Linked DNA regions of Homo sapiens. The protein of the gene in region 2 binds, or shares a complex with, the protein of the main gene of each other region. Each region holds a gene or a part of one and is shown on either strand. Other genes may lie near its edges.

Region 1 (7,690 bases), on a different chromosome or scaffold from region 2:
TCCAGCCTGGGCGACAGAGGGAGTCTCTAAAAAAATAAAATAAAATAAATTATAGCATCTCCCAATTATGGCATGCAATGCAAGCATAACATGGGATTAATGGACTCAAATCACTGGGCTGTATTATGGGAGATAAAGCAAAGAGCAGAGACCAGCCCCCTTCTTCTGGAAAGGTACTATCACCTCCACAATTACTGTTTCTGTAAAGGTAAATGTTTTAGGCTTCAGGGTCCATACAATCTCTATCACAGCTCCTGAATTCTGCCATTACAGCTCAAAAGTGGCCATAGCCAGGCACAGTGGTTTACACCTATCATCCCAGCAAGTTGGGAGGCCCAAGCAAGAGGATGACTTGAGGCCAGGAGTTTGAGACCAGATTGGGCAACAGAGTGAGACCTCGTCTATACAAAAAAAATCAAAAAATTAGCCAGGTGTGGTGGCACATGCCTGTAGTCCCAGCTACTCAGGAGGCTAAGGTGGGAGGATTGCTTGAGCCCAGGAGTTTGAGTCTACAGTGAGCTATGATTTCACCTGTGCACTCCAGGCTGAATGACAGAACAAGACCATGTCAGAAAGGAAAGAAAGAAATGAAGGAAGGAAGGAAGGAAGGAAGGAAGGAAGGAAGGAAGGAAGGAAGGAAGGAAGGAAGGAAGGATGGAAGGGAGGGAAGGGAGGGAAGGAGGGAAAGAGGGAAGCAGGGAATGAGAGAGGGAGGAAGGAAGGAAGGAAAGAAGGAAGGAAGGAAGGAAGGGAGGAAGGGAGGGAAGGGCAATAAACAGTAAGAGACAAGTGGACGGAGTTGTTTTCAATAAAATTCATTCACAAAAATAGGCGGCAGCCTGCAGGCAGGCCTTAATTTCAGTACAATGTATACTACACATGGTGTGTTGGCTGAGGGAGGGAACGTGTATGTGTTATGCACACACAGAGTCTCCCCGAAGGAACACCCAGGAAACCATTTGTGAGGTCCCTCCTGGGAAGGGAACTAGGGGAAGGGAGTAAGGAAGAGATTTTTACTCTTACACCCTTTTGCATCTTTTGAATTTAGAATACTGTAAATTCAAAAGATGAATTTGTTGTATATTTTGAATTGATTTATCTGTTGAAAAAGATCACTCAAATCGCTGATTTTTTTCAGGTATGTAAGTCTTGGAGAGAAAGCACTGAGAAAGGGGGCTCCATCTAAGGGTCTCACCTGGATCCCTGAAGCTGGACCACGCTCTGCCCGAAGCCCCTTGCGTTCTCTTGGAAGGTCATTGCGTTTTCAGTGTCCAAGTTGAACCCATGACATAAGGTCAAGGCTAAAGGGAGAATGGGGGAAGGATCAAGCAGAGGAAAGTAGCATGCCAGTTAGGGGCTGTAGTCCTAGCACTTTGGAGGGCTGAGGCAGGAGGATCACTTGAGCCCTGATTGTGCCACTGCACTCCAGCCTGAGCAACAGAGAGAGATCCTATCTCAAAATTAAATACAAAAAAAAAACAAAAACTAATAATAATTTAAAAGAAAGCAATGGCTGGGTGTGGTGGCTCAGGCCTGTTATCCCAATAATTTAAGAGGCTGACGTGGGAGGATCACCTGGGCTCAGGAGTTTAAGACCAGCCTAGGCAACACAGTGAGACCCCATCTCTACAAAAAATAAAAAATTAGCCGGGTGTAGTGGTACTCAGGAGGCTGAGGTGGGAGGATTGCTTGAACCCAGGAGGTCAAGGCTGCAGTGAACCATGATCATGCCACTGCACTACAGCCTGGGCAACAGAGAAAGACCCTGTATCAAAAAAAAAAAAAAAAAAAAAAGATAGCAGCATGTCTTCCTGCTCCATTCCCTTTCCCATCCATTCGGTCACCCTAACTAACCCAGCATCCAGATGTCTGCCTCCCAGGTCCAGCTCTGTTAGCCTGGGGCGGGGATTAGCACACTTATTCTGTAAACAGCCAGATAGTAAATTTTAGGTTTTGCAGACCAAGAGGCTGATAGAATATGTTGTACAAGTACTTATATAACAAGACAGAAAATACTTTTCCACAAATTTGTCATTAGGGAAATTTCAAACATAATGATTGAGTACAATTTGTTTGTAATACGGGTTTACAAATGAGACAAATAGAATTCTTTGGGGGTGGTGCTCCCTATCATCAAATCGATTATCAGTGTTCATCTTCAATCTCTAGCTGGCAGGTTGTGCAAAAACAGGTCGTGGGCCATATCGGGCCCCCAGGCCACTGTTTGCTGACTCCTGACCTAAGAACCACCGTCGTGGGGCACGTCCAGTCCTGCTCTGAATTCCAGCCTCCCTTCTGAGCACCTAAATGGCTTCTTCCCCCGGTGTCACAACGATGATTTGCCCAACAGTGAAGTTTCTATACATTCTTAATTAGATAATTTCCTTCCTATGCAGCTCTCAAGTATTTCCTTCCCTTTTGAGGAGAATTTCATTTTCCACAACATATAAGCATAAAAGGTAACAAACTCAAATCATTTTCATTCATCAGTCATTCAACAAACATTTGCACCCGGGACCTTGGAAAATAGAACCGGAGGCAAAGTGGAGATGGTGAGAGGGGATCCAGGAGGAAGCACTCAGGAAAGGGGTCTCACACCTGCTGCGCACCCTGAGCCATGTCACTTCTCCTCCCTGGGCCTCCGTCTCCTCATGTGTGAAGCAAGGGGACCGGCAAGCAGCCTTGCACAGTCCATGAATGTGGTCATTCATCCAGGCTTCCCTGGCCAGCCTGTCTGGGTCTAGCTGTTCTCCCTGCTTCTTCTTGAACCCTTTCTCCTTCCCCAAATCCCCTTTGCCTCTCCCCAGACTGACTCCTACATATTCTGGGCCCTCTATTTATGACAGACCCAAAAGTTACCCTCCTCCCCACCCAGAGTCCCCCACCCCACCCCCATGCACCTGTTAACAGAAGGACTCTGAGAGCCATGGCTGGAAGGAGCCAGAACCTGGAAGGAGGTGAACCAGGGGTTGCAGGCACCACTGAGGAACCACAAGGAAGCCACCAAAGCAAAGAAGGGCAGAAAAGGAGAAGTAGGAGGCAGAAGTCTATCAGAGATTCAAAGGAAGAGGGCGGAGGCTCAGTGAGCACATAGCCCTGCCTGGTCTTCCGCCCAGGACTGCCCACAGCCTGCCCACCCTTCCTCCCCAGCTTCCTGACCCAAACTTTCAAAGTCAATACCACTATCCAAAAGGTGCCATTTGTCACCCACTTGTTTCTTGGGTTGGCCCAAGCATATGAACAAGCTGAACAGACTTAGCCTGCCTCCTGGAATTCGTGTTCTAAACATTAATACGGGCCAGGCGCAGTGGCTCACGCCTGTAATGCCAGCACTTTGGGAGGCCAAGGCAGGAGGATTGCTTGAGCCTGGGAGTTTGAAACCAGCCTGGGCAACATAGAGAGACCCTGTCTCTACAAAAAAATATTTTTAATTAGCTGGGCATGGTGGTGCGCGCCTGTAGCCCCTGCTACTGGACAGGCTGAGGTGTGAGAATTACTTGAGCCCGAGGTCCAGGCTGCAGTGAGCTAGGATCACACCACTGCACTCCAGCCTGGGCAACATAGGGAGACCCCGACTCTACAAAAAAATACATTTAAAAAATTAGCCAGGCATGGTGGCACATGCCTGTAGTCCTAGCTACTCCAGAGGCTGAGGCAGGAGGATTGTTTGAGCTCAGGAGTCTGAGACTGCAATGAGCCTCAATAATGCCACTGCACTCCAGCCCAGGTGACAGAGTGAGACTCTGTCTCAAAAAAAAAATTAAATAAATAAATAAGCAAACATTAATACAGATCAAACAAGTGTAGGAGGTAAAACTCTGTGTCTTCCTGAAAACACACTTTGCAAAATGTCCCTCCTTCAGCCCATGGAAATGGAAGCGCCCTTCAGCCAGAGCTGTCCTCATTTGTAGCCATCAACAAAGACAACTCAAGTACAGGCATACCTGGTGCTTTTTAAATATTATTTTGTGCTTTTTTTAGAGACAGAGTCTAGCTCTGTTGCCCAGGCTGGAGTGCAGTGGTGTAATCACAGCTCACTGCAGCTTCAATCAACCTCCTGGGCTCAAGCGATCCTCCTACCTCAGCCTTCCGAGTAGCTGGTACTACAGGCACATGCTGCCATGGCCAGCTAATTTTTTTTAAATTTTTTGTAGAGACAAGATCTTGCTATGTTGTTCAGGCTATTCTCAACCTCCTGGACTCAAGTGATCCTCCTTCCTCAGCCTCCCAAACTGCTGAGATTACAGGTGTGAGCCACTGCATCCAGCCTATTTTTGTGTGTGTGTGTGTGTGTGTGTGTAAAGGCCTCAAGCTCTTCACCCAAGAATTTTCACTTCTAGTAATTTATCCTAAGAATAGTTAAGAAGTGTAGTCAAAAATATATGTACAAACTTGGCTGGGTGCGGTGGCTCATGCCTGTAATCCTAGCATTTTGGGAGGCTGAGGCGGGGTGGCTCACTTGAGGTCAGCAATTGAAACCAGCCTGCCCAACATGGTGAAACCTCATCTTTACTAAAAAGACAAAAAAATTAGCCAGGCGTGGTGGCAGGCACCTGTAATCCCACCTGGGAGGCTGAGGCAGCAGAATCACTTGAACCCTGGAGGCGGAGGTTGCAGTGAGCAGAGATTGTGCCACTGCACTCCAGCCTAGGCGACAGAGCAAGACTCTTATCTCTAAAAAAAAAAAAATATATATATATATATATATTTGCAAGCTTGTTCATTGCAGCATTATTGTTAATATGAAAAGCTAAAAAAACCTGAATATTCAACAGAGGAATGGTTCAATGATACTTCACTCTGTGATATATCCTTACCCTCCCCTGTGTCTGTCACTTTTAATTCTGTTTTCAAAGGCACAGGAAAATAGGTATCCTTCCACACATACATGGAACACAAACCTCACCTTTATGTGACCGCCAATGTGATTCTCAAGCCAATGATTTTTTTCACTCTTTCTCAACACATTTTCTTTTTTTTTTTTTTTTTTTTTTTGTGAAACGGAGTCTCCCTCTGTCGCCCAGGCTGGAGTGCAGTGGCGTGATCTCAGCTCACTGCAACCTCTGCCTCCCGAGTTCAAGTGATTCTCCTGCCTCAGCCTCCCGAGTAGCTGAGAATACAGGTGCTTGCCACCACGCCTGGCTAATTTTTTGTATTTTCAGTAGAGACAGGGTTTCACCATTCAACACATTTTCTTTTGCCTCTAGTTCTACTTTCCCGATAACTAGATGGAAAAAAATGCTTGCTGGCTGAAAAAAAAAAAAGCAATTAAAATTATGTACATTTGGTTAAAAATTATCTGTTTATAATTTTTATATATAGCCAGGTGTGGTGACTCCTGCTTGTAATCTCAGCACATTGGGAGGCCAAGGCAGAGGGATCATTTGAGCTCAGGAACTCAAGACCAGCCTGGGCAACACAGCAAGACCCTGACTCTACAAAAAAATGTTTAAAAATTAGCTGGGCATAGTGATGCACACCTGTGGTCCCAGCTACTCAACAGGCTGAGGTGGGAGGATCGCTTGAGCCAAGGAGGTTGAGGCTGCAGTGAGATATGATTGCACCACTGCACTCCAGCCTGGAAAACAGAGCCAGACCCTGTCTCTAAAATATATATAGGCAGGGCATGTAATATATACAGGCACGCCTGTAATCCCAGCACTTCGGGAGGCTGAGGTGGGAGGATCACCTGAGATTAGGAGTTCAAGACCAGCCTGGCCAACATGGTGAAACCCCATCTCTACTAAAAATACAACAATTAGCCAGGCGTGGTGGCAGGCACCTGTAATCCTAGTTACTTGGGAGGCTGAGGCAGGAGAATCACTTGAACCTGGGAGGTGGAGGTTGCAGTGAGCTGAGATTGCACCATTGCACTCCAGCCTGGGCAATAGAGCTTGACTCAGTTTCAAAAAATAAAAAATTAAAATTAAATAAATAAGTACATACATACAAAAATAAATCATATATATATATATATATATATATATATATATATATATATATATATGCAGGAAAACCAAATGTTAATAGTCGTTATCTCCAAGATAGGAGGATTACAGGTATGTTCCAGTATCTATTGCTGCAGAGCGAGCTACTCCAAAACTTCATAGTTAAAAACAGCAGCATATTATAATCTCTCGCGTATCTGTGAATCTCCTGGCCTCAGCAGTTCTCAGCGGGGTCTCTCACATGATTGCAGTCGGATCACAACCAGGGCTAGAGTAATCCAAAGCTCAGTTGGGCTGGGCTCCCAAAATGGGTCACTCCCACAGCTGGCAGTTGGCCGTGGGCTAGGAGCTCAGTTGGGGCTGTCACCTGGGCACCCCCACGTGCCCTCTCCATGTGGCTTGGGCTTCTCGCAGCATGGTGGCTGGACTTCAAGAGCAAGTGTTCCAACAGACAGGAAGCAGAAATTTCCAGGCTACTAAGGTCTTGATCTGGAAACTGGCGCCAAGTCATCTGCACCACATTCCATTGATCAGGCAGTCACAGAGCTCATCCACATTCAAGCAAAGGGGACACAGATCCCACCTCCCAATGGGAGGAATTTGTGGTTGTATTCAATCTGCTACAAGATGACTTTAATATTCTTTTCTATATCATTTGTACTTAAAATATTTATATAGGCTGGGTGCAGTGGCTCATGCCTGTGATCCCAATGCTGTGGGAGGCCAAGGCAAGAGGATCACTTGAGCCCAGGAGTTTGAGGCTACAGTGAGCTATGACCTCAACACTGCACTCCAGCCTGGGCAACAGAGCAAGACCATGTCTCAAAGAGAAAAAAAAAAAAGACCTTTATACAAAAAAAAGACTCATAATCATAAAAAATACCAATAGATAATTTAAAACAACAGGTTACCTGTATTTGTTAGCAGGTAAAGAAGCTGAGGAAAGGACGAACGAAGTCATGAGCCCAAGATGAGAAGATACCAACCAGGGTGCCCGGGGAGGAGTTTAGTAGATCAGCTGGGTTTGCTTTGGGAAAAGTTTTCACACTCTGGCCACTATGGGGGCTGCTCGAACTCAGACGTGGAGGCCCCTCCTTGCCCTGAACAGTGGCCAAGGGTCCACTCTCTGTAAAAACATAGGCAAGATCTCAGACTGGCTGTCCAACCTGCAGAGGCTTTCTCAATGAGCCACCACCAAGTGTGCACCTGACCTGGTGACCGTGGGTGGGGACATATCTATAAGCTGTTGGCTGTTCCCTCCTACCTGTCCCCCATCCCCACTCTTGATAAAATCTTAGCTTGATTTCCCCTATAAGTGGACTCTGAGACAAGGCTTCAAGTGTAAGTAATTTATCTGGAAGGTGATTCCGGAAACACTGGTGGGAAAGTGAGGAAAAGAAGGAGCTAATGCCAGGCACAATGGCTCACTGCCTGTAATACCAGCACTTTGGGAGTCCAGAGTGGGAGGATCGCTTGAGCCCAGGAGTTCAAGACCAACCTGGGCAACATAGGAAGATTCTGTCTCTTAAAAAAAATTTTTTTTTAATTATCTAGTGTGGTGGTATGCACATGTAGTCCCAGCTACTCAGGAAGCTGAGGCAGGAGGATCACTTGCACCCAAGGGGTCGAGGTTGCAGTGAGCTATGATCATGCCACCATACACTGTACTCTAGCCTGGGCAACATAATAAGACCCCGTCTCTTAAATTTTTTTAATTAAATAAATAATTAATTAATTAAACA
Region 2 (7,021 bases):
TGGATGAAGCAAAGTATCAGCATGTGGGTAGCACTGAGGGGCAGTATGCATGTACACATGTTTTCCACACATATCGTAGAAGTAAATGCATTGAGTCCATAAAAGAGGAAATGAAACAATTGATGCTACAAAATAGGAAATCAAAGAAGAAACAACAAAATTATTGCATAGGCATTGGACTGAACTACATCTGTGAATAACACATTAAGCAAATGTTTAAAAGATGATACTTTTGATTTTTAACAGAAATATGTTTCTGTATTTTGCCACTTAATTTATGCTACTCATTTAAACTGAAATATTTGGAAATTGAATGAACAGTGCCACGTTAGGCAGCCTAGCCAACCAGTACCTGGATTTTAGTTCCTGAATCACTGAGCTGTATGTTCACAATTCGACAAGCCTTGTTATCAGTTCTGAGGCATAGCTGACGTGGGGCGAGGGATTAGGTAGTTCTAGATGACTAGGCAGTTAATTCTTAAGCACAGGTGAGTTACTTTAAATCGGTTCACAAAGCATTAAAAGGATCTTGGTGATATGCAGGCTTTTGAACATATTTACGTTGCGATGGTACTGTTTGACAGGGATATGATCCTTTTTCTGTGATAAGTCCTTGTGATTTATTGAACAAGTCTCCAAAAGTGAACTTTCAGTGGTCTTGATGGTATGCCTCCAACTGTTCCTTTTCAGCTGTCTCTCTTGACCTCTGCAATGTGCATTTCTGAATGATTTTAGCTTCTTTTAGCTAAAATGAATTCTATCTCTTAGAAGGTGCACATTTTGTATTTCTATTCTAATCAATACTTCCTCCCACTGCTTTAATAACCCAAAGACACTTTATTTAAGTCAGCAGCGAACAGGGCCTGAGTCACTTTAGTTAAAATCTGGGCTCCCCTCAATCTGAAATCATTTCATCTCCTAATTTCCTTTTTAGTTTTTCTGTATACACAGCAGGCCATCTGAAAATAAGTAATCAAAGCAAGACCTTTTACTGAGAAAATGAGATAAGCTTATTTCAGAATTCTCAACTTTCTCACTTCTTGAAAAACATGTCCCCTTAAGGTCTTTGAACAATCTTTAAACAGATGTCTTTCTCTTAAGGCCCACTTCCAATCTGATTTCTCCCAGATTTTCTTAATATTGAAAGTGGGGAGTTGATGTTTACTTATACCAACTACATGGCAATTCTATTTCCAAAAGGCTTGTGAAAAGATAGAAAACAGATGATGCTTGTTGTCTGATTATTTGCCTTTCAAGAGTAACTTTGCTGTGATAGACTCATATAAATTGCTGATAAGAATTTAAATTACTACTTCCTTTCAAAAAATAAATTTCCCGACACATATCTGGAGTTTTTAAAATGTCCTGCCCTTGGATCCAGTACATCCTTTTCTAATAATCTATACTAAGGCAAAATTTAAGCATTCGATGATTTGTGAACAAAATCAGCATTGCATCATTATTTATAATAACAAGAGGTCAGAACTATCCAACTGATGTACAAAAGATGAAAGGTTACAAAATATATGGAGTAGGATAATATAAAGGAATATTACTTGGTCACATTTCAAAGTATATGCAATGACATGGAAAATAGATACAATTGAATTTTTAGCATAAAATACTATATCAACTGTCAATATATTCCTAAGTAAAGTCATAGAAAGAAAACATAAATAGAACTCGTTAAAAGTGTTGTTTCTACATTGTGAAGTTATGAGTAATCTCTCTCTCTCTATGTATGTGTGTGTGTATATATATACATATATATGTATATGTATACGTGTACATATACATATATATGTATACATATATACATATATGTATGTGTGTGTGTGTGTGTGTGTTTCTTTGGTTTTTATATGAGTCTGTAATACTTTTTAAATGAGACAAGTAATTAATATTTTTTAAGAAGAATGAAATAACCCCAAGAGGAGAAACCCTCCTTTTCCTTCAGGGTAAATCTACTGTAGGTATACTCTTTCTTTCTAGTAATTCATTCTCCTTGTGGCTGCTCTATTTTTCACAACACATGTCTCTGGATTGTAGTAGTAAATTAGCAACAAGAAAACCAGGTCTCAAAACCATAAAAATAGCTGCCACATACCCATGATCTTTAATATAAATATGTACTTTAAAGCACTTTACAATTTTGAAAGACTCTCCCATAAAGCCACCTTGAAAGTGTTGTTTGTAATGTCAGCTGTGTGAAGGCAGAGTTTTGTCTTGTTCACCTTTATACCCTAGCGTCTAAAACAGTGGAGATGGAGTGCATATTTGCTGAATCAATAAATTAATGTGTTTTGAACATTAGTGGTAAGATGAGATTGCAGAGGACATAATCTCACATGATACTAACACTGGCCCTCTGAGGAGGATATAGGTTTTATTATCCCCAGTTTATAGGAAACAGAGGCAGAATGATTGATCTGCACAAGATCACAGAGCTGGTAAGTGGCAAACATCTATTTGAACCAATTCTCTAGATTAGGGCTTAGTTCTTAGTATGATTCTAACAAAACTTCATGATTTTTTCATTGTCTCACCGTACCTAAAGGCCATGGTGTCACTTAATACGTTAGCATTTATCAAGATTTTGTTTTCTATTCAGCATAGAAAAAAACACATGGGCTCAGAATTGTAACACGGCTCATATTAATTTCTACTCATTCTTCTCACTGCATTTACTGTATTAGCCCATTCTCGTGCTGCTATGAAGAAATACCCAGAACTGGGTAATCTATAAAGAAAAGAGGTTTAATTCCCTCACAGTTCCACATAGCTGGGGAGACCTCAGGAAACATACAATCATGGCGGAAGGCACCTCTTCACAGGGTGGCAGGAAAGAGAATGAATGCAAGCAGGGGAGATGCCAGACACTTATAAAACCATCAACTCTCATAAGACTCACTCACTATCACAGAATAGCATGGGGGAAACTGCCGCCATGATCCAATTACCTCCATCTGGTCCTGCCCTTGACACATGGGGATTATGGGGATTACAATTCAAGGTGAGATTTGGGTGGGGACACAGAGTCAAACCATATCACTGCCTGTCTTCTTTCTTATCAGGAGTTGTTATGCATTCAAAGAATTTCCTTGGATAAATTCTGAGTTTTCTAGATTGAATATGGTGAACATGGCCCTTTGGATCCTATGATTCATAGCAATGTAAGAAGCCTGAATCCTTTCTAGAGTACTTTTTCTTAGTAAAGCCTTAGGACTTTCTGAACACTTTCAAACGTATCTTAAAACAATGTATTTGTATTTAAAAACCCCCCACAAAGTTACAAAAATACACACCTACTATTTTTTCTCATCTCTGTATCCCAATTATTATGAGTACTAGCCTCTATCAACTCAAAAACTGGCCAAAGAAAGGATGAAAGTTTGAAAACCCAGGAAGTTAAAATCTACCCAGGGCACTGCTGTGAGATTCCAGTGCAGTGATGTCCTGGTAGGAACAGAACAAGTCACCTTTCAGGCAGGTGCCCTTTACTTTCACATGTTGACAATGGCTCATTCTCTGTTTATATCCATTTCTGCTTTGCAGCCTCAATCCAGGCAGGGACAAGGGACATGTGGCCCGGGGTGTTATTTGATGTGTGGTGTATGTGTACTTCCTTCTCTTGATTTGGCTCTGTTCAATGTGAACTAAAGTGCCCTACTGTTCACATCAGGGTAGGAATCCTATTGGCTCTCAGAACCTTCTAGAGTAGCCGCTATATGACTTCAATAAAAAAGCACTTGGCTTTAACTAATTATAGCCCTGCTCCAGGCTAATTTGTGACCCACATCTCATAGTAAACATTTCTCTCTAACCTTGAAAGGCGACTAAACTGGGACAGTTTTACCCACAGAGTTTAATCAGGTCTCTATTCTAAAGACAAAGTTTTAAGAAACCTGGATAAATTTCATATACGTATGTTTGTAAGTTTTCTTCTTCATAAAATATTTGTCTTTAAAGATAGACTGAAATTTGACAAGATTCTAATTGGATTTACACTCCTTACTTTCCTTGAGAAATACTCTTTTCTATATAGTAATGGGTTGAACTATTTCCCATTCAAGTATTCATTTATCCACTCCGCATGCAACAAGTATTTCATGAATGCTTGTTATATCTCAGGCACAGAATATACAGTTGCAACATACAGATAGGGTCTCTATTGTCATAGGAAAGGAAAAACACATACCAAATAATTAGAGACAAAATTAATAGTTCAATTCTAGTTTTGGAAAAATCAATGGGAGGCACAATGAGAGTGTCTGTGCACGGAATCTGCTTATCTGAGAGCTCTTGGAGGGCTTCCCTGAGAAAATGCAGTTGAGGCTAAGATTTTAAGGATGACTAGGTGCTGACTGTGCAAATTGGGGTAGTAGGAGAAGGAACACTCAGGCCAAGAGGAAATAATATGAAAAGGATAAGATGGAAAGAAGCAAAGAAAAGTCAAAGAACCGTCATAAGGAAGATGGGTGAGACATATTATCACCATGTTATGGATCCATTTATTTTCACTAAAGCTTTACTAATCAGCTTTTACACACAAGGCCCTGTGCCATGGGTTGGAGGTACAACAGAGAGTAGAAACTGCACCCTCTCGCAGCTTGTATTTTGGTGGCAGTTACAATGCTAGAGATAGGTGCTCTAACAAGAGCAGGAAAGAGAAACAACTTCTAACTCACACTGCGAGGTCAGCAAACTAGAAGTGATGTCAATGCTGGTACCTGAAGGATGGGAGGCATTAATGAGACATGTCGTAGTGGAAGTGTGGGGTTGATGAAATGAAGAGTGAATTTGAAGGCCAGAGACTAGAGAGAAAAACAGACAAAGAGAAAAGATGTATTTGGGGAACTAAAATAAGCATAAGTATGAAGATGGAAGTAAAGAGGGGCAATGTGAATGTTTCAGTTTCTTCATCTATTACGTAAGGGCGTTGGACCACGTTCTTTCTAGGTCATAGATTTTGTGATACTATTTTAAACCCATCATGTATACTAGGTAAAGATTGAGAGGTTGTTAATAAGTTTTTGAGGCCACAGAGATAAGCAGTGACAAAGCTCATTTAGTCTTTCAGTTGAATGTACATAAAAGTCACAAAAAACTGCTTTCGATTGGAAGCAATATTACTGACCTGATTTTTTTTCACAAAAATTTGAACACTTTGTTATGTAAAAAACTAAACTGACCTTATTGCAAATATGAATTCTTCCCTCCTTCCACTACTTTTTACTGAAGACTCTTTATTTTTCTCTTTAGATTGAGCCCAGAGTAGACTCAAGTTCTGCAGGGTGTCCGGACAGTACCATGATTACTTGCCACTTGTGTCAGAAGAATAAGTTGATTGACATTGTACAGATTTAATAAGCAAATTGTTGATTTCCTGGTATTTAGCAAGTTGTCAATTAAGGAATAAGACACCAATGTCAGGTTCAGGGTTACCTAAGAATGTGCTCTTGCCTTTACCAAGAAGAATTTGGTGACAGATTCCTATTCCCAAAGTGTTCTTTGAAATGGACAACCTTACATTAACAGATCAAATAGTGTCCAATGTTCAGAATAATTTTAAGTTTTATGAAACTTTTATACAAAAACCTGGTTAGTATGTCATCTGCTCAGACTTATGTATGAAATAGGAACATGTTAGCCAAAATATGAAAATTGCTACTTAGATATCCACTCTACTGGAGACCTAGAAGATAACAAGTTCCTGAGGGTTTTCCAGGAAGGGACATGAGGAAACTGAGAGAGGGAAAACCAGAGTTAGGTCTCAGTTGAAATCCTACATTGTTCTCTGAAGATACCATCCTAATATACAGCTGTTGCCTAAAATGTTGACCAAAAATTGGGAATTATTACATTTTCAGACACTGAATAATTTTTCGGAAATTACACATAATGTCTCCTTTGATCTAAAATGTATCTTTCACTTGGAAATTCTGGTCATTACACCTCTCATAGGGTGAAAGAAAGATATTTGAGAAAACAAACAAAAATAGAGAGCGTGAAAAGTTAAATTTCTTTAGTATAGAAATGGGGCAAACTTGGGAAGTCATGAATGGAATGAATACAATTATGGACAACAATTTAGCCTGGGTTTAGAAACTGCTGACCCACTTGCATATAGTGTACCCTTGAAGTTTGAGTAAAGGAAGATTAGGACAATTACATTGAACAGAAATACTACTAGTGTGTAATGGACTTTGGAACCTACTTGAAGAGGTCATGAAGATAGTATATAGAAATGGAAAAGTTTCCAGCTCTACTTAAGTATGAGCTGAGAAATATACAATATTTCTAGTTGGCATCATATCATATCTTCTGTCTTCATAAGTCTTATGGTCCTCTTGGACACAGGCTGTATGCTCCAGTGAACAATGACCTCATCCCTGTTGGTCATTGTTTTTGTCCCAGTGACCCTATGTTGCTTAGCACATTCATTGACCTGCTCAATCAATATGCCTTGATAATGATTAAGGATTTTAATTATACAGGGTAATGATCTCTTGTTCTTGCTCTATTATCACCCTAATGATAAATGCTAACCTTAATTGAGCACATGCTATTGTATCATGTTCTGTTCTCAGTAGATTTTATAGAACAGGTTTAATTTGGATATAAACCGTATGCTTACTATCATATGCTATGGTACTTTTCATATGCCTATTTAAAGATGAGTAATCTAAGAAACAAATACATTAAGTAACTTTCTCAGTGTCTCACAGTAACTTAATGATGTGGCCAGGATTTAAACTTCAGCAGTCTGACTCCAGAGCCTGTACTTAACCAGTATATTTCTGCCACTACTATGGACCAAATTGGAGAAGTGGCTCAGAAATATTTAGCAATATCCCCTCACTTGCTAACCCAGTGATTCTGACCATTTTTGTCTTTGGAGCCAAATTAGATGTGTTCTATTCTACATTGCATTCTCCTGTTAGGAAAAGAGAAGTGGAAAGATGGTTGAATGGAAAAGAATGGAGTCTTTTGATTGAAATCCTCAATGTTTTACTTTCCT

The links. The genes of interacting proteins can lie anywhere in the genome.
Region 1: the proteins of PTN (region 2) and ITGAM are in contact, whole or in part, in an NMR structure (PDB 8VOH), measured with the Homo sapiens proteins. Residues at the interface, in NP_001308315.1 of Homo sapiens: Val56, Pro57, Thr58, Ser59, Asp61, Cys62, Gly63, Leu64, Thr66, Glu68, Thr79, Lys81, Thr82, Gln83, Arg84; in NP_000623.2 of Homo sapiens: Pro273, Asp276, Arg277, Gly279, Val280, Ile281, Arg282, Tyr283, Lys306, Pro307, Arg309, Asp310, His311, Ala334, Ile335, Glu336, Gly337, Thr338, Gln339.

What each region holds. Positions count from the first base shown.
Region 1 is NC_000016.10:31,255,303-31,262,992, reverse strand, and holds the start of ITGAM (integrin alpha-M isoform 2 precursor), read right to left. Parts: upstream 3,019-7,690; 5' UTR 2,929-3,018; coding exon 2,901-2,928; intron 1,302-2,900; coding exon 1,196-1,301; intron 1-1,195.
Region 2 is NC_000007.14:137,228,716-137,235,736, reverse strand, and holds part of PTN (pleiotrophin isoform 1 precursor), read left to right. Parts: intron 1-7,021.